Linked DNA regions of Homo sapiens. The protein of the gene in region 2 binds, or shares a complex with, the protein of the main gene of each other region. Each region holds a gene or a part of one and is shown on either strand. Other genes may lie near its edges.

The links. Proteins that work in one complex are often made in the same cells at the same time.
Region 1: PKN1 (region 2) and NOD2 share a complex: the UniProt entries of both Homo sapiens proteins name them as parts of the signaling complex.
Region 3: the proteins of PKN1 (region 2) and RHOA are in contact, whole or in part, in a crystal structure (PDB 1CXZ), measured with the Homo sapiens proteins. Residues at the interface, in NP_002732.3 of Homo sapiens: Glu40, Arg43, Arg44, Ile46, Arg47, Leu50, Lys51, Lys53, Glu54, Glu57, Asn58, Arg60, Arg61, Leu77, Arg78, Ser81, Leu84, Asp85, His88; in NP_001300870.1 of Homo sapiens: Met1, Ala2, Phe25, Ser26, Lys27, Asp28, Gln29, Val43, Asp45, Ile46, Glu47, Gln52, Glu54, Thr163, Lys164, Arg168, Glu169.

What each region holds. Positions count from the first base shown.
Region 1 is NC_000016.10:50,688,597-50,696,609, forward strand, and holds the start of NOD2 (nucleotide-binding oligomerization domain-containing protein 2), read left to right. Parts: upstream 1-5,009; 5' UTR 5,010-5,066; intron 5,067-8,013. UniProt on the Homo sapiens protein: Pattern recognition receptor (PRR) that detects bacterial peptidoglycan fragments and other danger signals and plays an important role in gastrointestinal immunity.
Region 2 is NC_000019.10:14,464,288-14,471,308, forward strand, and holds part of PKN1 (serine/threonine-protein kinase N1), read left to right. Parts: intron 1-3,277; coding exon 3,278-3,354; intron 3,355-3,430; coding exon 3,431-3,506; intron 3,507-3,588; coding exon 3,589-3,680; intron 3,681-5,053; coding exon 5,054-5,230; intron 5,231-5,464; coding exon 5,465-5,527; intron 5,528-5,624; coding exon 5,625-5,701; intron 5,702-5,875; coding exon 5,876-6,018; intron 6,019-6,287; coding exon 6,288-6,395; intron 6,396-6,483; coding exon 6,484-6,564; intron 6,565-7,021. UniProt on the Homo sapiens protein: PKC-related serine/threonine-protein kinase involved in various processes such as regulation of the intermediate filaments of the actin cytoskeleton, cell migration, tumor cell invasion and transcription regulation.
Region 3 is NC_000003.12:49,401,973-49,408,993, forward strand, and holds part of RHOA (transforming protein RhoA isoform 1 precursor), read right to left. Parts: intron 4,835-7,021; exon of another isoform or gene 4,740-4,834; intron 1-4,739. UniProt on the Homo sapiens protein: Small GTPase which cycles between an active GTP-bound and an inactive GDP-bound state.

The sequences.
Region 1 (8,013 bases), on a different chromosome or scaffold from region 2:
AAGAATTTTAAAAGTCCAGTTAAAATCCGATCCTAACTTGTCTTTTAGATGTTTCAATGCATATATTCACACATATCTATTACAGAATTTTTGTATAAAGTATGAGGTAGTAGTCCAAATTCATTTCTTTTGCACGTGGATATCTAGTTTTCCCAGCACCATGTGTTAAAGAGATCATTTTTCCCCTTTGAATTATCTTGGCATCCTTGTTAAAAAACAACCTACTCTTTAAATTTAGCCTTATATTCTTTCTACACAAAGCATTTGGCAGCCCAACTGTTTTTCATTGAGATATAATTCACATACCATAAAACTCACCCTTTTAAGGTGTGTAATTCACTGGTTTTTAGTCCATTCACAAGGTTGTGTAACCATCACCATGATCTAATTCCGGAATATTTTCATCATGCAAAAACAAAACAAAACAAAACAAAACAAAAACCAAACCTCATGCCCACTAGCAGTCACTCCTCATTCCTCCCTCCTCTCAGTTCCTGGCAACCAACAAATCTACTTTCTGTCTTCATGGGTTTGCCTATTCCGGACATTGCATGTAAACGGACTTACACAATAGATGTCATTTTGTGACTGGCTTCTTTCACTTAGCATAATGTTTTCAAGGTTCATTTATGTTGTAGCATTTATCAGTACTTTGTTTTTTTCACAGCTGAATAATATTCCATTGCACAGATAGATCACATTTTCTTTATCCATTCATCAGCTGAGGGACATTTAGTTTGCTTCCACTTTTTCCTCTTATGAATAATGTTGCTATGAACATTTGTGTACAAGCATTTGTGTGCATATATGCTTCAATTCTGTTGAGTATACCTAGGAGTAGAATTGCTGGATCATATGGTAACACCATGTTTAACTTTATGAAGAACCCACAAACTATTTTCCACAGTGGCTTCACCACTTTACGCTCTAACCACCAATGTATGAGGCTTCCAGTTTCTCCACATTATTTCCAGCACTTGTTTTCTGTCCTTTGGACTAAGGGCACCTTTGTGAGTGTAAAGTGGTATCTTATGGTGGCTTTGATTCACATTTCCCTAACAATTAATGATGTTGAGCGTCTTTTCATGTGCTTGTTGGCTACTTACATACGTTCTCTGAACATTTTCAAATCCTTTGCTCATTTAAAAAGTTGTTTGTTATTGAGTTTCAGGAGTCCTTTATATATTCTGGATATGAGTCGTGACTATTTTCTCCCATTCCGTTGGTTGTCTTTTTACTTTCTTGATCATGTCTTTCAAAGCACAAAAGCTTGGAATTTTGATAAAGTCCAACTTATCTATTTTTTTCTTTGGTTGTTTGTGCTTTAGGTGTCAAATCTGAGAAATCATTGCTTCATCCAAGGTCACAAAGATTTTCACCTATGTTTTCTTCTAAGATTTTTATATTTTAAATCTTGCATTTGGGACTTTGATCCATTTTGGGTTAATTTTTGTATAAGGCCTGAAGGAGGAATCCAAATTCAGTTCTTTTGCATGTGGACATCTAGTTTTCCCAGCACCATTTGTTAAAAAGACCACTTTTTTCCCCCTGAATCATCTTGGCATCCTCGTTCAAAAAAGAGTCTACTTTATAAATTTAGCCTTATATATTCTAGGCAGCTTTCTATCTGATAAACATACTTATAGCATCTTTAAAAAATAAATATCTATTGAAATATGACAAGCATAAAGGAAAATATAAATATCATGTGTTTAACTTGGTCAGTTTCACAATGTATTTGCATCAATGCAACCACTATTCAGAGTAAAAATAGGAGATTACTGGCACCCCAGAAGTCCCCTTCACTCCTCCCCTAGTCACTACCTCCAACTTTCTCCCCAGTGGTAGCCTCTATCTTGGCTCCTACCTGTAATGCAGTTTTGCCTGCTTTTGAACTTTATAGAAAGGATACCATTCCGTATGCACGCTCTTGCACTCAGCCTGTTTCACCCAACATTATGTCTGTGAGGCTGCAGTTCTCGTGGGGGTACAGTGATTCATTTATTTTCATTGGTTATTAGAACCACAGCATTATTTTTAGTATATTCACTCAACAAAGATTTATTGCATGCCAGGTCCTGTTCTAGGCCTTGGGAGAAGGCAAGGGACAAAGCAAAAATTCCCTGTTCCCTTGGAGCTCATGCTGTCTTGGGTGAGAGACCAACAACAAAGACAATAAATAAGTAGAATACATAATGTGTTGTGTGCAGATAAGCGCTATGGAGAAAAATACAAAATAAAGCAGGAGAGAAGGGATTGGAGGGTGTTGCAGCTGTACACCGAATAGTTAGGGAAGGCCTTGCCGAGAAAGTCATATGGAAGCAAAGACCCAAAGGAGAGGAAGGAGGGAGCCAGGTAGATTTCTAAAGAAAGAGCATTCCAGGCACAGCAAAGGCAAAGGCCTGAGTGTAACTGCAGGTTTGGCATATTTGAGGAACAGCCAGGAGGCCAGTGTAGCTGGAGCAGAGTGAGTAAGATGAGAGTGTAAGAGGTGGGCAGAGAGGGTGCCAGAGGCCAAACAGCAATTGTAAGGACCTTGGCTTTTACTTTGGGATGGGAGCCATCAACAGAAGAGTTTCAGCAGAGGAGTGATAGAATTTGACTTAAAACAGCAACAACGACAACAACAGCAAAACCAACAGACTCACTCTGGCTGCTGGATTGAAGAAGGGCTGTAGATGGAGGCGTGGAGAATGGCCAGGAACTCCTGCTATCACCCAGGTGAGAGATGATGGAGATGTGGACCCAGGTGGTAATGGTGCATATGGCAAAAATGGGCTGCAGCTTGGAAATATTTGAAGGCCAAGCTGAAAAATTTGCTCCCAGATTGGATAGTGGGGCTGAGAGAAGATGGGTCGGGTTAAGTGTTCTAGGTTCAGATGTTCTGTCAGTTTTCTTAATTAATTTTCTGTTACTGGGCATTAGGGAGGTTTCTAGCTTCTCACTGCTGTAGGCAAGATGGTGGTGAACATCCTTGTAGATGGTTCTGTGCGCTGCCCAGAATGAATTTTCTAGGGTAGATTCAGTCCTTCTAATGCAGCATTTTCCAACCTTGGCTGACTGTGCACCACCTGCACAGGTATTTACTTGAAAGCGGTATGGGGTAGTGGTTAGAGCATTCATCTGTGCCAGAGGCCTGGGGCAAATCCCCATCTCTGGTGCCAGAGGAAAGGGGGCATCTCGAGGCTGGGGAGGCCCCTGGCAGGAGTGAGAAGTCCTGAGGAGCCCGGGCTTCAGGTCTCAGAGGGGGCCACTGTTTTTTGAGTACCTTCCTCTCTGTGGGACTCAGTTTCCCCATCTTCACCATGCCAGTGAGTGGGTGGGTGTAAGTGAGCGAGTCTGCCTGGAGGATCCTACTGCTGCTCTCTGCACCTCTTAGGGGAATCTCCTGCCTCCTCCTTCTCCCTTGGTGGGCGTGAGATCAAAGTTCAAATGTGTACCTCAGTTTCTGCATCTATAAGTTAGAGGCAATAATAGTCAATACCCTAGAGGTGGAAGTAACTGAGTTACTGTCTGTAAAGACTAGCACATGGTAAACACTTTCTAGATGCCAGTTATTTTCGTTATTTTTAAAAATTGACTTCACATTTTTTAAAACAACCAAATATGAGTTTCAAAAGGAACATTTACATTAACATGTTAAATGGAAAACCGGTGTCATTTGCTCCGGAGAACAGAAGAATGTAAAATAAAATATATTTAATGGAAACAAAAACAATGCTATTAAAGCTAATTAGATAGTTTCAGAGCCAAGTAATCTAGGCAGTGCTAGAAAGGTACTCAAACCCTATTAGTACTAAACTGAGAAATAAACTCCATTCAACATAAACGGAAAAACTGAAAGGAAAATGAAAAAAAAGAACCTTAAATGACCAGTCCACTCTTACCTAACATGTAACCTGTCACACTCTGGAAAAGTTTTCCTAGTTTTGGCTGTGTGTGCGTGTGTGTGTGTGTGTGTGTTGGGAAGTGAGGCGTGTGTTGGGAAGCGATGTGTGTGTTGGGAAGCGATGTGTGTGTGTTGGGAAGTGGGGTGTGTGTATATTGGGAAGCATGTTTGTGTGTGTTGGGAAGCGGTGTGTGTGTTGGGAAGTGGTGTGTGTGGGGTGTGGTGTGTGTGTGTTGGGAAGTGGTGTGTGTGTGGGGTGTGTGTATGTGCACGTGTGTGTTGGGAAGCAGTGTGTGTGGGGTGTGTGTGTGTTGGGAAAGCAGGGAGTGTAGTGTGTGTTTGTGTTGGAAAGTGGTGTGTGTGTGGGGTGTGTGTGTGTGTGCACGTGTGTGTTGGGAAGCGGTGTGTGTGGGGTGTATGTGTTGGGAAAGCAGGGTGTGTGTGTGTTGGGAAGTGGTGTGTGTGTGAGTGTTGGGAAGCAGGGTGTGTGTGTTGGAAGTAGGGGGTGTATGTGTATCGGGAAGCATGTTTGTGGTGGGGGGAAGCAGGGCGTGTGTGTGTGTGTATGTGAGTGTTGGGAAGCAAGGTATGTGTGTTGGGGGAAGCGAGGGCTGTGTGTGTATTGGGAAGCATGTTTGTGTGTGGGGGGAAGCGAGGGCTGTGTGTGTGTATTGGGAAACATGTTTGCGTGTGGGGGGGAAGCAGGGCGTGTGTGTGTGTTGCGAAGCGGTGTGTGTGTGGTGTGTGTGTGTGCGCGTGTGTGCTGGGAAGCGGTGTGTGTGGTGTGTGGTGTGTGTGTGTGTGTATGTGTATGTGTTGGGAAGCGGGTTGTTCCGAGGACTCCCCGATTCCCTCCTGGTTGAAACGTGGCCCAGAAAGAGAGGCACACTGGCTAGGGCACACAGCCAGGGCCGTCCAGCCCCGCAGGAAGCCCCGGTCCTGCCCTGTCCCAGGTAAGCCTGGCCAGCCCTGGAGCCGGCGCTGCGGGGCTGCGGGGCTGCGGGGCTGCGGGGCCACGGGACAGGAGCGGGTGCTGCGGTCCCGGCAGAGCAGGGGCGGGGTCCGGGCGGGGGCGGAGCCGAGCGCCCGCGCACCCGGAGCCGCAGCCCGAGCCGGAGCCGGAGCCGGGAGTCGTGGCCCGGAGTGGGCCTTGGAGTCGGCGCGCAGGCGGCTCGCGGTGAGTGCTGTGCCCAGCGCCTGGGGGTGGGCTGGGGGGAGACTGTGGGCGCCGAGGGTCCCACCCCCGGGACTTGAACACTTGGCTTCTGAGCCGTCCTGGCCGCAGGGCTTGGGCAAGGGTTGCCTCGGTTTCTCCTGGGGGAGTCCCAGAATGTAGATGGGAAGTGAGACGGAAAGGGGGCATCTCGAGGTTGGGGAGGCCCCTGGGCCACTCTTTTGATTTCCTTCCTCTCTGTGGGACTCAGTTTCCCCAGCTTCACCATGCCAGTGAGTGGGTGGGTATAAGTGAGAGAGTCTGCCTGGAGGATCCTGCTGCTGCTCTCTGTACCTCTTATGGGAATCTCCTGCCTCCTCCTTCTCCCTTGTTGGGTGTGAGATCTAAGTTCAAATCCATCCCTTCCCAGACAGCCCACACCAGGACCTGCGAGGCCACATCCCCCAGCTGTTTGCTCTCCTATGCTTCTCAGGTTGATGGAGCAGCCATCTGGTCCTGCTTTCATTCCAACAAACTGAAAAGCCCTCCACCCCAATCCCCCTGGGGAGGACCTCCTGAAGCTGCATGAGGGCTGGGGGCTGGACCCCTGCTTCTGAGTTTGCTCTTTCTGAGCCTCTCCTGCCATGGCCTTGGTTTCCCCATGGGCTGTGACCTAGCCTCCTCCAGGGTCCTTGTTCTACAGAGGGGAAACACCTGCCCTGTCACCCTCCCCTGACCCCTTAGTGAAAAAGACCAGAGTGACATCCCCACCACCTGTACTTGCCTGTCCCGATCACTCAGCCATGGGGCTGCTGGGGCCCCTGAGTTTGTTGGCTGCTCAAGGCCCCTTTGCCTCGCTGCACCCTGGGATCTGAGGCTGGAAGCATCCTCATCCAGCCCACCTCCCTCCTACCCAGTGCAGAGCCCCTCTGTGACACATGCCCAGTGGTGGGGAGCTTATTACTGATGAGGTGGCTTTTTAGTGCCTTGCAGCTCTTGTTTCCTTTAGCTAAAATCTGTGGCTTACAGATTCTACACCTTGGTTCCATGTCTGTCTCCCGGAGCCATGCAGAGCAAGTCAGTTCTTTCATTCTTTCCAGCAGTCATCATTCATGCACTGGATGAGACACGAGACAGAGCAGTAGGAAAATCAGACAAAACCCCCTGCCCTCATGGAGTGCACACTCTAGAAAGGAATGGACAGCAATGAAATAAGTAAATACATGGCGTAGCAGGTGGCGGGAAGTACTACGAGTAAAACAAAGCTGGGAAGCAGGATGGGGTGCTGGGGCTGGGTATTGCATTGTATATAGCACAACCAGGGAAGGCTTCCCCAAGACCACGATAGCTGGGCAAAGTCATAAGGAATTGAGGGGTGAGCCACATGAGTATCTGGGGGGCTGGGAGGCTTTGGTTTTCACTCTGAGCATGATGGGAGCACGGGTTTGGAACAGAGGAGTCACCTGCTTTGACTTGGGGTCTGGCAGGCCCATCTAGCTGTGGGGTGGAGAATGGATCATGGGGGGGGTGGGGTAAGGGCAGAAGGAGAGCCCGTTGAGCGGATCATTGCTGTCATTCTCGGGAGAGACCATGGTGTCTTGCCCATGGCCCAGAGGTGGTTAAAAAAAAGAAAACCAGACATTCAGATTTGGGATATATTTCAAAGGCCGTGTCGATAGGGTTTGGGGTGCAAGAGAAAGGTAGAGTCAAAGATGATTCTGAGTGTTTGGCTCGAGCTTCTGGAGGTTTGAAGCTGCCATGAACTGAAATGGGAGTTGCTTAGCGGAGAGATCAAGAGTTTGGTTTTGTGCTTGTGGAGTTTGAGCTGCCCATTAGGCATCAATGATGAGTAAGCAGTTGGGAAAAGTTAAGGGCGGAGGTTGGAGTTGAAAATAAAACTTTGGGCATCATCACCATATAACTGGTATTTAAAGCCACAAGAGCAGGTGGGCTCATCTAGGGATGGAGTGATATGGAGAAGAGAAGGGGTCTAACCATTGAGTGCTGGGGCCCCCAGTGTTAGGAACCAGCCAAGAAGACAGAAAGAGTGAAAATCAGAGAGTTGGGGTGTCCTGGAGGAAATGAAGAAAATGCCCCAAAGAGGAAGGAGGGAACAAATATGACCAATGCCCCTGGCAGAGCAAGCAGGCTGAGGGCTGAGGATTGAGCAATGGGAGGTCACTGGTGACAGTTTCACTGGAGCTGGATGGGGAACTAGAGGGAATGGGAGGGGATGGGAGGACTTGGGGACAGCAGTACAGGCAACAGACAAGGGGGCCTGCTGTAAAGGGAGCAGATAAATGGGATTGGAGCCAAATGAAGAAGGGGAGTGTCAAGAGAGTGCTTTACTTTTACAATGGAGAATTAGAGTGCATTGTGCACTGGTGGGGGGATTTGATCTCTTAGGGAGAGAACAGTGTTAGGGAGGGAGAATGCAGGATAGCTGGGGGAGGGTGGGGGGCTTGGCCCCAGCAGAGACTCAGGACACTTGGGAAGTTGAGCTTCCCTGGGCTTCCCCTCCTCTCCTGTCTGCAAGGGGTCAGTGGGCTGAGATTTCAGCACTTAAGCAAAGCATTTGCTCTTGGCCCCAGAGAAACCGGGCTGGCTGTGGTCTCAGGAAGGAAGGAGGTGTCCAGGCTCAGGCCTGGGCCTGGGTTTCAGGGAGGGCCCACGTGGGTCGCCCCTTGACCCTCTCTTTCAGCAAGGAAGTGATCCTTTCTCTACATGGGCCTCACCTTGGGGAGGACAATGGTGTCTTTGAAGTTGTAGTAACTGAAGTAGAGATCAAAAGGCAATGCAGATAGACTGACAGATTTCGCCTGAAGAGGGGAAGCCCGACCAGGTAATAAAGGAGTAAGAGGAAGGATGTTAAGGACAATTTTAGGAAACAGATAATGAGTGAATATTTTTTCTCTCTCTTTCCCAATTTAAACTGAAGCAGGAGAAACTGAAGCTAGACATAATGATTAAC
Region 2 (7,021 bases):
ATGCTGGTTAAAACGTGTGCCCAGATCCCCATCCTGGTTAAAAAACTGCTCATGCCTATAATCTCAGCACTTCTGGGAGGCTGACATGGGAGGATTGCTGGAGCCCAGGAGTTTGAGACCAGCCTGGGCAACACAGTGAGCCACTGTGAGCCATGATCCTGCCACTGCACTCCAGCCTGGGCAACATAGCGAAATACTATCTCAAAAAACAAAACAGGCTGGGCACAGTGGCTCACACCTGGAATCCCAGCACTTTGGGAGGCTGAGGCGGGTGGATCACTTGAGGCCAGGAGTTCAAGACCAGCCTGGCCAACACAATGAAACCCCGTCTCTAATAAAAATACAAGAATTAGCCGGGTACGGTGGTGGGCACCTGTAATCCCAGCTACCCGGGCAACTGGGGCAGGAGGATCAGTTGAACCTGAGAGGCGGAGGTTGCAGTAAGCCAAGATCATACCAATTGCGCTCCAGCCTGGGCGACAGAGCGACTCCATCTCAAAAAATAAAAATAAATAAAACTGTGAGCTCAGCGGCTGGACCCCCTGGGTTCCCACCCCTGCCGTGCCACCTCTTGGCTCTGCGCTTCACCTCTGTGCCTCAGTGTACCACTTTGCAAAACGAGCATATTTAAAACTCATGTCAATGATAGAATGATCGAGAGAGTGCTGTTCTCTAGGCAGAGGTTACCGCAAGCTGGGAGCCACAAGGGGACCTGCCGGGTGATGGAAATGTTCCTTATCTTGATCTCGGTCAGAGGTCAGCACGCGTTTTCCAGAAAGGGCCAGAGAGTCAATATTTTTGGCTTTGTGGGCTAGACAGTCCCTGTCTGCTTTGTAGTTTGAAAGCAGCCACAGACGATATATGTACACTGTAAGCGTGTCTCTATTCCAGTAAAACCTTATTGGTAGTACACGCGGAAGTTTGAACATTGTAGAACTTTCATGGGCAATGAAATATTATTCCTTTTTTTGTTTTTTTTTATTCCCCCAACGATTTAAAAATGTAAAAATCAGTTTACCTGTGGTCCCAGCTACTTGGGAGGCCGAGGCAGGAGGATGACTTGAGCCCAGGAGTTGGAGTCTGGCCTGAACAACATGGCAAAACTCCATCTCTTTTTTTTTTTTTTTTGAGATGGAGTCTCACTCTGTTGCCCAGGCTGGAGTGCAGTGGCGTGATCTAGGCTCACTGCAACCTCTGCCTCCCAGGTTCAAGGGATTCTCCTGCCTCAACCACCCGAGTAGCTGGGACTACAGGTGTGTGCCCACCACACCCAGCTAATTTTTGTATTTTTAATAGAGACGGGGTTTCACCTCGTTGGCCAGGCTGGTCTTGAACTCCTGACCTCAGATGATCTGCCCACCTCAGCCTCCCAAAGTGCTGGGATTATAGGTGTGAGTCACCATGCCCGGCCACTGCATCTCTTAAAAAAAAAAAAAATAGTGAAAGCCATTCTTAGCTCTTACAAACTATAAAAACAGGCTGGCCCACCAGCCAGCATTTGCCAACTCCTAGGCTGGCTGATGGTTTCCTGGGTGGATGCATATGTAACCTGTTCCTCTTGCCCACCTCACTGAATGCATTTTATTTATTTATTTATTTTGAGACAGAGTCTCACTCTGTCGCCCAGAATGGGCGTTGGAATGCAGTGGCGTGATCTCAGCTCACTCCAATCTCCGCCTCTCAGGTTCAAAGATGCCCATGCCTCAGCCTCCCTAATAGCTGGGACTACAGGCATGTGCCATCATGCCCAACTAATTTTTGGTTTTAGTAGAGATGGGGTTTCACCATGTTGGCCAGGCTGGTCTTGAACTCCTGACCTCAAGTGTTCTCCCCTCTGCAGCCTCCCAAATTGCTGAGATACAGGTATGAGCTACTGCACCCAGCCTGAATGCATTTTATCTTTTATCTTTTTTTTTTGAAACGGGGTCTCGCTCTGCCATCCAGGGTGGAGTGCAGTGGCGCAGTCATGGCTCGCTGCAGCCTCGACCTCCTGAGCTCAGGTGATCCTCTCACTTCAGCCTCCCAAGTAACTGGGACTACAGGCGTGCACCACCACACCTGGCTAATTTTTTATAGATCTAATTTTTTAGAAAGTAGAAGTAATGGGTTGGGCATGGTGGCTCACGCCTGTAATCCCAGCACTTTGGAGTCAAGAGATCAAGACTATCCTGGCTAACATGGTGAAATCCCATCTCTACTAAAAATACAAAAATTAGCCGGGCGTGGTGGCGCACGCCTGTAATCCCAGCTACTTGGGAGGCTGAGGCAGGAGAATTGCTGGAATCTGGGAGGCGGAGGTTGCAGTGAGCTGAGATCACACCACTGTACCCCAGCCTGGGCGACAGAGTGAGACTCAGTCTCAAAAATAAAAAAAATAATAATAAAAAATGGACATTGTCAAGCCAGGCATGATGGCTTGCACTTGTAGTCCCAGCTACTCAGGAAGCTGAACGAAGAAGATCGCTTGAGGCCAGAAGTTTGAGACCAGCCTGAGGAACAGAACAAGACCCCATCTCTACAAAAATTAGGCCGGGCGCGGTGGCTGACGCCTGTAATCCCAGCACTTTGGGAGGCTGAGGCAGGTGGATCACCTCAGGTCGGGAGTTGAAGACCACCCTGACCAACATGGAGAAACCCCATCTCTACTAAAAATATAAAAAATTAGCCGGGCGTAGTGGTGCATGCCTGTAATCCCAGCTGTTTGGGAGGCTGAGGTAGGAGAATCACTTGAATCCGGGAGGCGGAGGTTGCAGTGAGCGAAGATCACACCATTGTACTCCAGCCTGGGCAACAAGAGTGAAACTCCATCTCAAAAAAAAAAAAAATGAGCTGGACGTGGTGGTGCATGCCTTTAGTCCCAGCTACTCAGGAGGCGGAGGTAGAGTTGGAGGCTGCACTGAGCTATGACTGCGCCCCTGCACTCCATCCTGGAAGACAGAGCAAGACCCTGTCTCTAAAAAAAAAAATTCAGGTTGGGCATGGTGGCTCACGCCTGTAATCCTGGCACTTTGGGAGGCCGAGGCGGGTGGATCACCTGAGATCAGGAGTTCCAGACCAGCCTGGCCAACATGGTGAAACCCCGTCTCTACTAAAAATACAAAAATTAGCCAGCCATGGTGGTGCAGGCGTGTGGCTGGAGGAGAGTGAGTGAGGGGCTGCGTGGGAGGAGAGGTGAGGACAGAGAGGTCGGGGGCAGATCTTGCAGGGCCTCGGAGGCTGCTGTGGTTATGAGGGCATCTCTGACTCCCCTTACTCTGGCCTCCTCTCTCCGCCACAGAGCTCCCCCATCCAGGAATCCACTGCTCCCGAGCTGCCTTCGGAGACCCAGGAGACCCCAGGCCCCGCCCTGTGCAGGTGACACCACTCCCTGGCCCCCTGTCCACCACCCCTGCCCGCTGTCCTTGTTCTCACCAGTGGCCTCTCTCCACAGCCCTCTGAGGAAGTCACCTCTGACCCTCGAAGATTTCAAGTTCCTGGCGGTGCTGGGCCGGGGTCATTTTGGGAAGGTGAGGTGGAGGGCAGGGAATTGGGAGACCCCCCAGGTCCCTGGCTGGCCGCTAAAACCACCCCTGCCCACTGTGGTTCCAGGTGCTCCTCTCCGAATTCCGGCCCAGTGGGGAGCTGTTCGCCATCAAGGCTCTGAAGAAAGGGGACATTGTGGCCCGAGACGAGGTGGAGAGGTGGGGACCTGCCGTGGTCCTCTGGGGACCTCTTTCTTCTCTTTTGGGAAATGACAGAGCAGTTCTCTCCTTGGAGCTACAGGGAGAGTGACTCATAGTAGTCACTAACGCCAGGCACAGTGGCTCTTACCTGTAATCCCAGCACTCTGGGAGGCCGAGGCAGGTGGATCACTTGGGCTCAGAATTTCAAGACCAGGCTGGGCAACATGGTGACACCCCCATCTTTACAAAAAATACAAAATAATTAGCTGGGTGTGGTGGCACATGCTTGTAGCCCCAGCTACTCATGAGGCTGAGATAGGAGGATCGCCTGAGCCCAGTAGGTCAAGGTTGCAGTGAGCTGAGATCGCGCCACTGCACTCCAGCCTGGGCAACACAGTGAGACCCTGTCTCAAAACAAAAAGTCACTAATACCTACTAGCCTAATACCAAGATAATAATAGCTCTTAGGAAAGTTATTCATTTGTTCCTCCATGTAGCCCTATAAGATAAATACTGATGGCACAGAGAGGTTCAGCAATTTACCCAAGGTCACACAGCCAGTAAGCAGCAGGTCCAGGATTCAAAGCTAGAGACTCAGGCTCTGAAGCCTGTGCCCTTTGTGGTGCCACCATACTGCCTCTGCTTTAGGGTCAGGTTCCTGGGTTCAAATCTCAATTCTGCAGCATGGGCTTGGAGATCCTGGGGAGGTCACTTCTCCCTTCAGAACCTCAGCTTCTTGGCTGGGCATGGTGGCTCACGCCTGTAATCCCAGCACTTTGGGAGGCTGAGGTGGGCAGATCATCTGAGGTCAGGACATCGAGACCAGTGTGGCCAACATGGTGAAACCCCGTCTCTACTAAAAATACAAAAATCAGCCAGGCATGGTGGCGGGTGCCTGTAGTCCCACCTACTTGGGAGGCTGAGGCAGGAGTATCGCTTGAACCCAGGAGGCGGAGGTTGCAGTGAGCCAAGATCGCACCACTGCACTCCAGCCTGACTCTGTCTCAAAAAAAAAAAAAAAAAAAAAAAAGAACCCCTCTTGTTGTGGAGAAGCAGAATGCTATTGCCTTCCACACATGGTTGTCAGGTGCTCTCTACACAGTGCCTAACCCCTCTAAACATTCGGTACAGGCACTGAGATTGTGCCTGGTCTTCCCAGCATCCTTTTGATAATCAGGAACCCAACTGAGAAAGACTGAAACAAGTAAAGAAATTTATTGGTCTGGATCTGAAAAGTCCAGGAGTGTGCTACCTTCAGGCATGGCTGTATCCAGGTGCTGAGATGACGTTTCTCAGTTCTGCTTCCCTCTGTATGGGCTTTGGTTGCCATCTGGGAGTCTGGAGTAAGTGGCGGCCATGGTCTCTGACTTCTATCCCCCACCCCTCCCCAGCCTGATGTGTGAGAAGCGGATATTGGCGGCAGTGACCAGTGCGGGACACCCCTTCCTGGTGAACCTCTTCGGCTGTTTCCAGACACCGGAGCACGTGTGCTTCGTGATGGAGTACTCGGCCGGTGGGGACCTGATGCTGCACATCCACAGCGACGTGTTCTCTGAGCCCCGTGCCATGTGAGCCTGGACCCCAGCCCGGGCCCCTGCCTCCCCTACAGCATCTGACACTTAGTCCCCCCGAGAGGCTGGCAGCCTGCTTCTCACCCCTCCACCCTCAGGCCTTGCTTCCCTCAGCCTCCCAGAGCTTTGGGGAGACTGGGGGGCTTTTGAGGATGTGGAAGCCAGGCTTATGTGACCCTCCCTCCTTGCAGGGTGGCCCCACCCCTCTCAGCAGCCTCTCTCTCTCTGCAGCTTTTATTCCGCCTGCGTGGTGCTGGGCCTACAGTTTCTTCACGAACACAAGATCGTCTACAGGTGTGTGCGTGTGTGCATGCATGTGCACACTGCCCGTTGTGGGGACAGGACCCAGACCCCCGCTCATCCCTCTTTCCACCCCTCCAACCCCCAACAGGGACCTGAAGTTGGACAATTTGCTCCTGGACACCGAGGGCTACGTCAAGATCGCAGACTTTGGCCTCTGCAAGGAGGGTGAGGGGCTGGCCTCTGGATTAGACAAAGGAGGGGGAAGGAATGGGGTCCCTAACCCTATTCGGGGTGCCCCCCACCCTGACCCTGGGACAGGGCTGGCTGTGTGGACAACCCCACATTGGGCTGAGTGACTCCTCTGGCCCCCATAACCTCACATGGCCTTGCTGTCCCCAGGGATGGGCTATGGGGACCGGACCAGCACATTCTGTGGGACCCCGGAGTTCCTGGCCCCTGAGGTGCTGACGGACACGTCGTACACGCGAGCTGTGGACTGGTGGGGACTGGGTGTGCTGCTCTACGAGATGCTGGTTGGCGAGGTGAGACCCCGCCCCTGTGTGTCTCGGATCTCATTGGAACCTGCGCGTGCCCAGGGTGGGATCCAAGTCTGCCTCCACCATGTGTTGTGTGATTGAGGGCTGCTGGCTCTGCTTCCCTGGCCTCAGTTTCCACATCTATAAAATGGGGCATTTCCCTGCCCAAGTAAGCCAGCACCCAAGAGCTGCAGCAGAGTGTGGGGCTCAGGCCGGGCTGGGTTTGGAGCAGCCAGAGGAGGGGCCTCGTTCACCCCGGGCCTCCCTCTCCCCAGTCCCCATTCCCAGGGGATGATGAGGAGGAGGTCTTCGACAGCATCGTCAACGACGAGGTTCGCTACCCCCGCTTCCTGTCGGCCGAAGCCATCGGCATCATGAGAAGGGTGAGGACCCCCGACGTGGGGCGGGCCTGGGGAGGGGCAGTGGGGCCCAGGAGGGGACAGATCCTGACACAGTGCTCCTTCCTCCAAGCTGCTTCGGAGGAACCCAGAGCGGAGGCTGGGATCTAGCGAGAGAGATGCAGAAGATGTGAAGAAACAGCCCTTCTTCAGGGTGAGATTCCCCACAAGGACCTCAGTGACCCCGGCCCTCCCCCAGGGCCGATTCATCACCCCACAGCAGACGGCCCCCATGCCTAGCCGCTTTGCCTCAAGGGCCTCGTTGCGCCTCAAGGGCCTCGTTGCACCTCCAGGGCAACATCGTCACCTCCTTTGACACCCCCATTTCCCTCCTCCACTTTTGTTCCCCCCAAGGACCCTCCTAATCCCACATCTCCACTTTTCCCTTTTTTTTTTTTTTTTAGCCAGGGTCTCGCTCTGTCGCCCAGGCTGGAGTGCAGTGGCTCAATCTCGGCTCACTGCAACCTCCGCCTCCCAGGTTCATGCAGTTCTCCTGCCTCAGCCTCCCGAGTACCTGGGATTACAGGCGTGCACCACTCCACCACACCAGGCTAATTTTTGTATTTTTAGTAGAGACGGGGTTTCGCCATGTTGGCCAGGCTGGTCCTGAA
Region 3 (7,021 bases), on a different chromosome or scaffold from region 2:
CAGTAAGGGCACTTGGAGATCAAGAGCAGCAGGAATAAGGCACATGGTGGTAAGCAATGAAGAAAACCTTCAATTTACTGCCAAGTGAAAATCACTTCAAACTCAAGTTCTTTGGGGAAAGACAGGCAAGGAACAATCCCTGAGGTAACATACCGTCAAGTTTCCTAAATAAGAGCATGAAATCATTTATCTCAAAATGTAAATATTATAAGGTTAACCTTCAATGGATGCACAGAATCAGGATTTGACTTTGTTTGGCCTAATTCCAAACTTACATTGCCTCTAAGACAATGCGTATCTAGTAAAACTGACAAAGAAAAATGAACCATTAGGTACCTCCCAGTGAGCTGGCTAAGAATTTATATATGCTTATTGTAAACCTTATTGCAGGAGTTTACTTTTACCAAGTATATATATTTCTTAAAATAAAAAACTAGGCCGGGTGCAGTGGTTCACACCTATAATCCCACCACTTTGCGAGGCCAGAGCTCAGGAGTTAGAGACCAGCCTGGACAACATGGCAAAACGTCATCTCTATAAAAATTAAATTAATTAACTAGGTATGGTGGTGCTTGCCTGTAGTCCCAGATGCTCATGAGGCTGAGGCAGGAGTATTACTTGGGCACAAGAGTTAGAGGCTGCAGTGAGCCACGATAGCACCACTGCACTCCAGCCTGGGAAACAGATCAAGACTCTGTCTCAAAAACAAACCAAAACTTGTCATATTCTAGGAAGCCAAGCAAATAAAACGAATGAACAAAAAAACTAGTCTAAAAAACTTTAGGCCAGGAGCAGTGGCTCACACCTGTAATTCCAGCACTTTGGGAGACCGAGGCAGGAGGATCACAAGGTCAGGCCTTTGAGACCAGCCTGGCCAACATGGCGAAACCCCGTATCCACTAAAAACACAAAAAATTAGCCGGGCGTGGTGGCGGGTGCCTGTAGTTCCAGCTACTCGGGAGGCTGAAGCAGAAGAATCGCTTGAACCCGAGAGGCGGAGGTTGCAGTGAGTTGAGATCGTGCCACTGCACTGCAGCCTGGGCAACAGAGCGAGATTCCATCTCATAAAAAAAAAAAAAAAGAAACCCGCCGAGCGCGGTGGCTCACGCCTGTAATCCCAACACTTTGGGAAGCAGAGGCAGGCGGATCACAAGATCAGATCGAGACCATCCTGGCTAACAGAGTGAAACCCCATCTCTACTAAAAATACAAAAAGTTAGCTGGGTGTGGTGGCACGCACCTGTAGTCCCAGCTACTCAGGAGGCTGAGGCAGGGGAATCACTTGAACCCGGGAGGCAGAGGCTGCAGTGAGCCAAGATTGCGGCACTGCACTCCTAGATGACAGAATAAGACTCCGTCTCAAAAATAAAAATAAAAATTTAAAGCCTTGAGGAAATGCTCTTTAACTCGACTGAGTGGCAATTACTTGGGTATACACATTCATCAAAATTTATCAAACTGGCGGTTTGTGGTGGCTCATGCCTATAATCCCAGGGCTTTGTGAGGTTGAGACGAGAGAATCACTTAAGGCCAGGAGTTCAAGACCAGTCTGAGCACATAGTGAGACCCCTCTCTCTACAAAAAAAAAAATTACAAAATAAAAATGTAGCCAGGCGTGGTGGTGCACACCTGCAGTCCCAGCTACTCGGGAGGCTAAAGCAGAGAATTCTTGGGCCTAGGAGGTCGAGGATGTAGTAAGCCATGATTCCGACACTGCACTTCAGCTGGGTGACAGAACAAGGCCCTATGTCTAAAAAAAATAAGAACAAAAAAATTATCAAACTATCATTTAAAGTATGTGCATTTTATTGTATGCAAATTAAACCTCCATGAAGGTAATTAAACCTCAGGTGATTCCAATTTGGGGAACTGGATTCCAAGTTTGGGAACAGTGGAGTCTAGGAACCACTGTTCTTAAGTACCAGGAACCAAGTAGTAAGCCCTGTTTTATTCCAAGAAATCTTAGGGTGCTACTCCCACTACCCTCCCACCACCCCCGAAAAAAGGTACTACAAACTGTAACCTGAATAGTGAAAGTTGAAGATAGCTGGACTCAGTGGCTCATGCCCGTACTTGCAGCACTTTGGGAGTCTGAGGTGGGAGGACTGTTTGAGCCCAGGAGTCTGAGACCCAACCTGGGCAAGACAGCAAGACTCCATCTCTACAAAATGTAAAAATATTAGCTGGGCGCAGTGGCACATACACCTGTAGTCCCAGCTACTAGGGAGGACGAGGCGTAAGGATACCTTGACACCAAAAGTTGGAGGCCACCATGAGCTATGACTGTGCCACTGCACTCCAGCCTAGATGACAAAACAAGACCTTATCTCTCCAAAAAAAAGCCAGGCGCAGTGGCTCACACCCGTAATCCCAGTACTTTGGGAAGCCAAGGCAGGTGGATCACAAGGTCAGGAGTTCAAGACCAGCCTGGCCAACAAAGTAAAACCCCGTCTCTAGTAAAACACACACACACACACACACACACAAAATTAGCCGGGCATGGTGGCACGCACCTGTAGTCCCAGCTACTTGGGAGGCTGAGGCAGGAGAATCGCTTGCACCCTGGTAGGCAGAGATTGCAGTGAGCCGAGATTGTGCCACTACACTCCAGCTTAGACAACAGAGCAAGACTCCGTCTCAAAAAAAAAAAAAAAAAAAAAAAAAAAGGCCAGAAGGCCAGGCACGGTGGCTCACGGCTGTAATCCTAGCACTTTGGGAGGCCAAGGCAGGCAGATTGCCTGAGCTCAGGAGATGGAGACCAGCCTGGGCAACATGGTTAAACCCCGTCTCTACTAAAATACAAAAAAAAAAAAAAATTAGCCAGGCGTGGCAGCATGCACCTGTAGTCCCAGTTTACCTGGGAGGCTAAGGCAGGAGAACCGCATGAACCCGGGAGGCAGAGTTTGCAGTGAGCCGAGATCACGCCACTGCACTCCAGCCTGGGCGACAGAGCGAGACTCTTGTCTCCAAAAAAAAAAATAATAAAAAAAGTAGGCCAGGCGCGGTGGCTCACACCTATAATCCCAACACTTTGGGAGGCGGAGGCAGGCAGATCACCTGAGGTCAGGAGATCGGGACCATCCTGGCTAACACGGTAAAACCCTGTCTCTACTAAAAATACAAAAAAAAAAAACACCTAGCCGGGCGTGGTGGCGGGCACCTGTAGTCTCAGCTACTCAGGAGGCTGAGGAAGGAGAACTGCTTGAACTCGGAGGGCGGAGGTTGCAGTGAGCCGAGATCGCGCCACTGCACTCCAGCCTGGGTGACAGAGCGAGACTGTGTCTCAAAAAAAAAAAAAAAAAAAAAAAAATTAGCTGGGCATGGTGACATGCCTGTAAACCCCAACTAATGGGGAGGCTGAGGCAGGAGAATCACTTGAATCCAGGAGGTGGAGGTTGCAGTGAGCTGGGATCACGCCATTGCACTCCAGCCTGGGCAACAAGAGCAAAACTCCATCTCAAAAAATAAATAAATAAAATAAGTTAGTTGAAGGGCTACATGTCTGGCACTTGAGGTAAGTGCTTCTCTCTCACTGAAATCTCATGGCGCTTCCTTACCATTCCCTTTCTACAGAAGAAAAAAACTGAATTACAAAGGAGACATACTACTGCCAAGGGTCTCAAGCCATCAAGTGTCAGAGCTAGTATTTAACTGTCAGTTTCTCTCCAGAATCCATGCTCTTAAATAAGATACTCTACTGCCTTTTCTTTCCTTCTTTTTTTTGTGTGTATGTTTGAGACGGAGTTTCGCTCTGTTGCCCGGGCTGGAGTGCAGCAATCTTGGCTCACTGCAACCTGCGCCTCTCAAGTTCGAGGGATTCTCCTGCTTCAGCCTTCCGAGTAGCTGGGATTACAGGCACTCACTAATACACTCGGCTGATTTTTGTATTTTTAGTAGAGATGGGGTTTCACCATGTTGGTCAGACTGGTTTCGAACTCCTGACCTCAGGTGACCCACCCACCTCGGCCTCCCAAAGTGCTGGGATAACTGGCATGAGCCACCATACGCAGCCTGCCTTCTGTTTCTGAACTTAAGATCTTCAAAAGATAAACAGAGCTTCATTATGAATAACTGGAAAAGTTAAACAAGAGATTTCATCCAGAAAAGAAATTTTCCACACACACAAAAAAACAGGTATTTCCAACAAAGCTGCCATATCACATAATAAAATTATCTTGTAGAAAAAAGCATTAACAAAGTGTTACAACATTAAATATCCATCTTAAATTTACTTCCTTAACCTCTCAAAGCCTATATCCCAAACAAAGTTACAAAAAAAAATCCCAGTAGTAGAGCATATGATCTCTAGGTCCATGGAAGAGACACCAGAGAATCACAACTCATCTGCAACATACAGACTAGGATACAATGGCTAGAAGAATACAGTAAAATAAAAATGTATACATAACAAAAGTTAGAATGCTCAACCATATACTTGAAGTCAAAACAAGCAACTTTTTTAAATCATGGGACTGAATCCTTGTGCTTTAGAGCAGCTATAAGCTTCAGAAATTAAAAATCTTGGCCAGGGTAGCTCACGCCCGTAATCCCAGCAGGAAGCTGAGGCGGGTGGATTGCCTGAGGTCAGGAATTTGAGACCAGCCTGGCCGACATGGTAAAATTCTTGTCTCTACTAAAATACAAAATACAAAAATTAGCCAAGGGTGGTGGGCAGGTGGTGGATGGCACCTGTAATCGAGCTAGTGGGTAGGTTGAGGCACGAGAATCGCTTGACTCACATCTTTAATCCCAGCACTTTGGGAGGCTGAGGCAGGAGGACAACTTGAGCCCAGGAGTACAAGATCTGTCTGGGCAACATAGCAAGACACCATCTCTAGTACAAAAAAAGAGAAGAAAAAAATAAAGCAAAAAAATTTTAAAAACAAATCCTTAGTGGCTCATGCTTGTAATCCCAACACCTTGGGAGGCCAAGGTGGGTGGGTCACGGGGTCACGAGGTCAAGAGATCAAGGCCATCCTGGCCAACATGGTGAGATCCCGTCTTTACTAAAAATACAAAAATTAGTCGGGCATGGTCACACACACACACCTGTAGTCCCAGCTACTCTAGAGACTGAGGCACGAGAATCGCTTGAACCTGGGAAACAAAGGTTGAAGTGAACAAAGATCACTCACTGCACTCCAGCCTGGGTGACAGTGAGACCCTGTCTCAAGAGAAGAGAAGAGAAGAACCAATGACTTCAAATAAAATAGGCAGAAGTCACTAAGTCAAGGAAATTAATATTATGAAATCCTTTCCGTTTTTTTTTTTTTTTTTTTTTTTTTGAGTCTTGCACCGTCTCCCAGGCTGGAGTGCAATGGCTCGATCTCTGCTCACAGCAACCTCCGCCTCCCAGGTTAAAGTGATTCTCCTATCTCAGCCTCCTGAATAGCCGGGATTATAGGCGCCTGCTGCCACGCCCAGCTAATGTTTTGTATTTTTAGTAGAGACAGGGTTTCACCATGTGGCCAGGCTGGTCTCAAACTCCTGACCTCAAGTGATCCACCTGCCCAGCACTTCCAAAGTGCTGGGATTACAGGCATCAGCCACTGCTCCCAGCCAGGAATTCCTTTTTATATTTGTCCAAATTATCATATTAGTTTACTATTTAGTCAGAATGGAATTAGATCTACTCCTACTCACAGTGATTCTAGTTTTTTTTTTAATATCAGATCATGTCATTCCCTTTCTAAAGAATATCTAAATGACTTCTAATCTCAGAACAAATCCAAAGAATTTCCCATGTCCTAAAGGCCCTATATGATTTGGCCCCTGCCCACCTCTCTAACCTCTTTTTACCTCCAACTTTTCCTTTCACTCCACTTCAAACTTACTTCATTGGCTGTGTATGTTTTCCTCTTTCCCTTCACTTAAATTTAAGATACTATCATAAATATGCTTAAATATGGCCAGACATAGTGGCTCTCACCTGCAATCTCAACACTTTCAGAGGCCAAGGGGGGCAGATCACAAGGCCAGGAGTTCGAGAACAGCCTGACCAACATGGTGAAACCCCGTCTCTACTAAAAATACAAAAATTAGCTGAGCACAGTGGCGCATGCTGGTACTCCCAACTACTCCAGAGGCCGAGGCACAAGAATCACTTGAACTAGGAGGCGGCGGTTGCAGTGAGCCGAGATGGCGCTACTGCACTCTGGCCCGGACGACAGAGTGAGACTCAGTCTCAAAAGAGAAAAAAAAAAAAATATATATATATACACACACACATACACACACGTATATGTACACATATATATACGTATACACGTATATGTACACATATATATACGTATACACGTATATACGTATACACAAGTATATATACATATACACACACACACATATGCTTAAATATACATACTCATCCTCTTCAAAAAATAAAATCAAGCTAAGTTTGGCATAAACTGCATACTGATTGCAATTTAGCAAGAGTATTTGATGTTTTTCTTTATTATTAGCTATAAAAATGTATTTGGATGAAGCATCAATAAACTGAGACCAACACCCAGAACGAGCAGCTTCAGTGCCTGATTTTCAGTCACATGACTATCGTAATTATGAACATACCAAGGCCTTCACTTAATACTACAGCTCCACAGATTAAAGATGAGGGATTTTATAGTAATTACAAACTTCAAACCGTCTTGGAAATTTTAATCCCACAAATGAGCATGTCCCCAAAGAGCCCCATGTATAGCAAGGCATGTAACATTAAGTTCAAAATTTAGTTATATTAATGTGTAGTTACAAGCAAACAGTTCCATTGGGCAGGTAAACAAAGGAATAAACTAAATGGCAGAGTCAGACAAAATACTTAAGATCCTTTTTTTTTTTTTTTGAGACGGAGTCTCGCTCTGTTGCCCTGGCTGGAGCACAGTGGCGCGATCTCAGCTCACGGCAAGCTCCGCCTCTCGGGTTCACGCCATTCCCCTGCCTCAGCCTCCAGAGCAGCTGGGACTACAGGCGCCCGCCACCACACCCAGCTAATTTTTTTTGTATTTTTAGTAGAGACGGGGTTTCA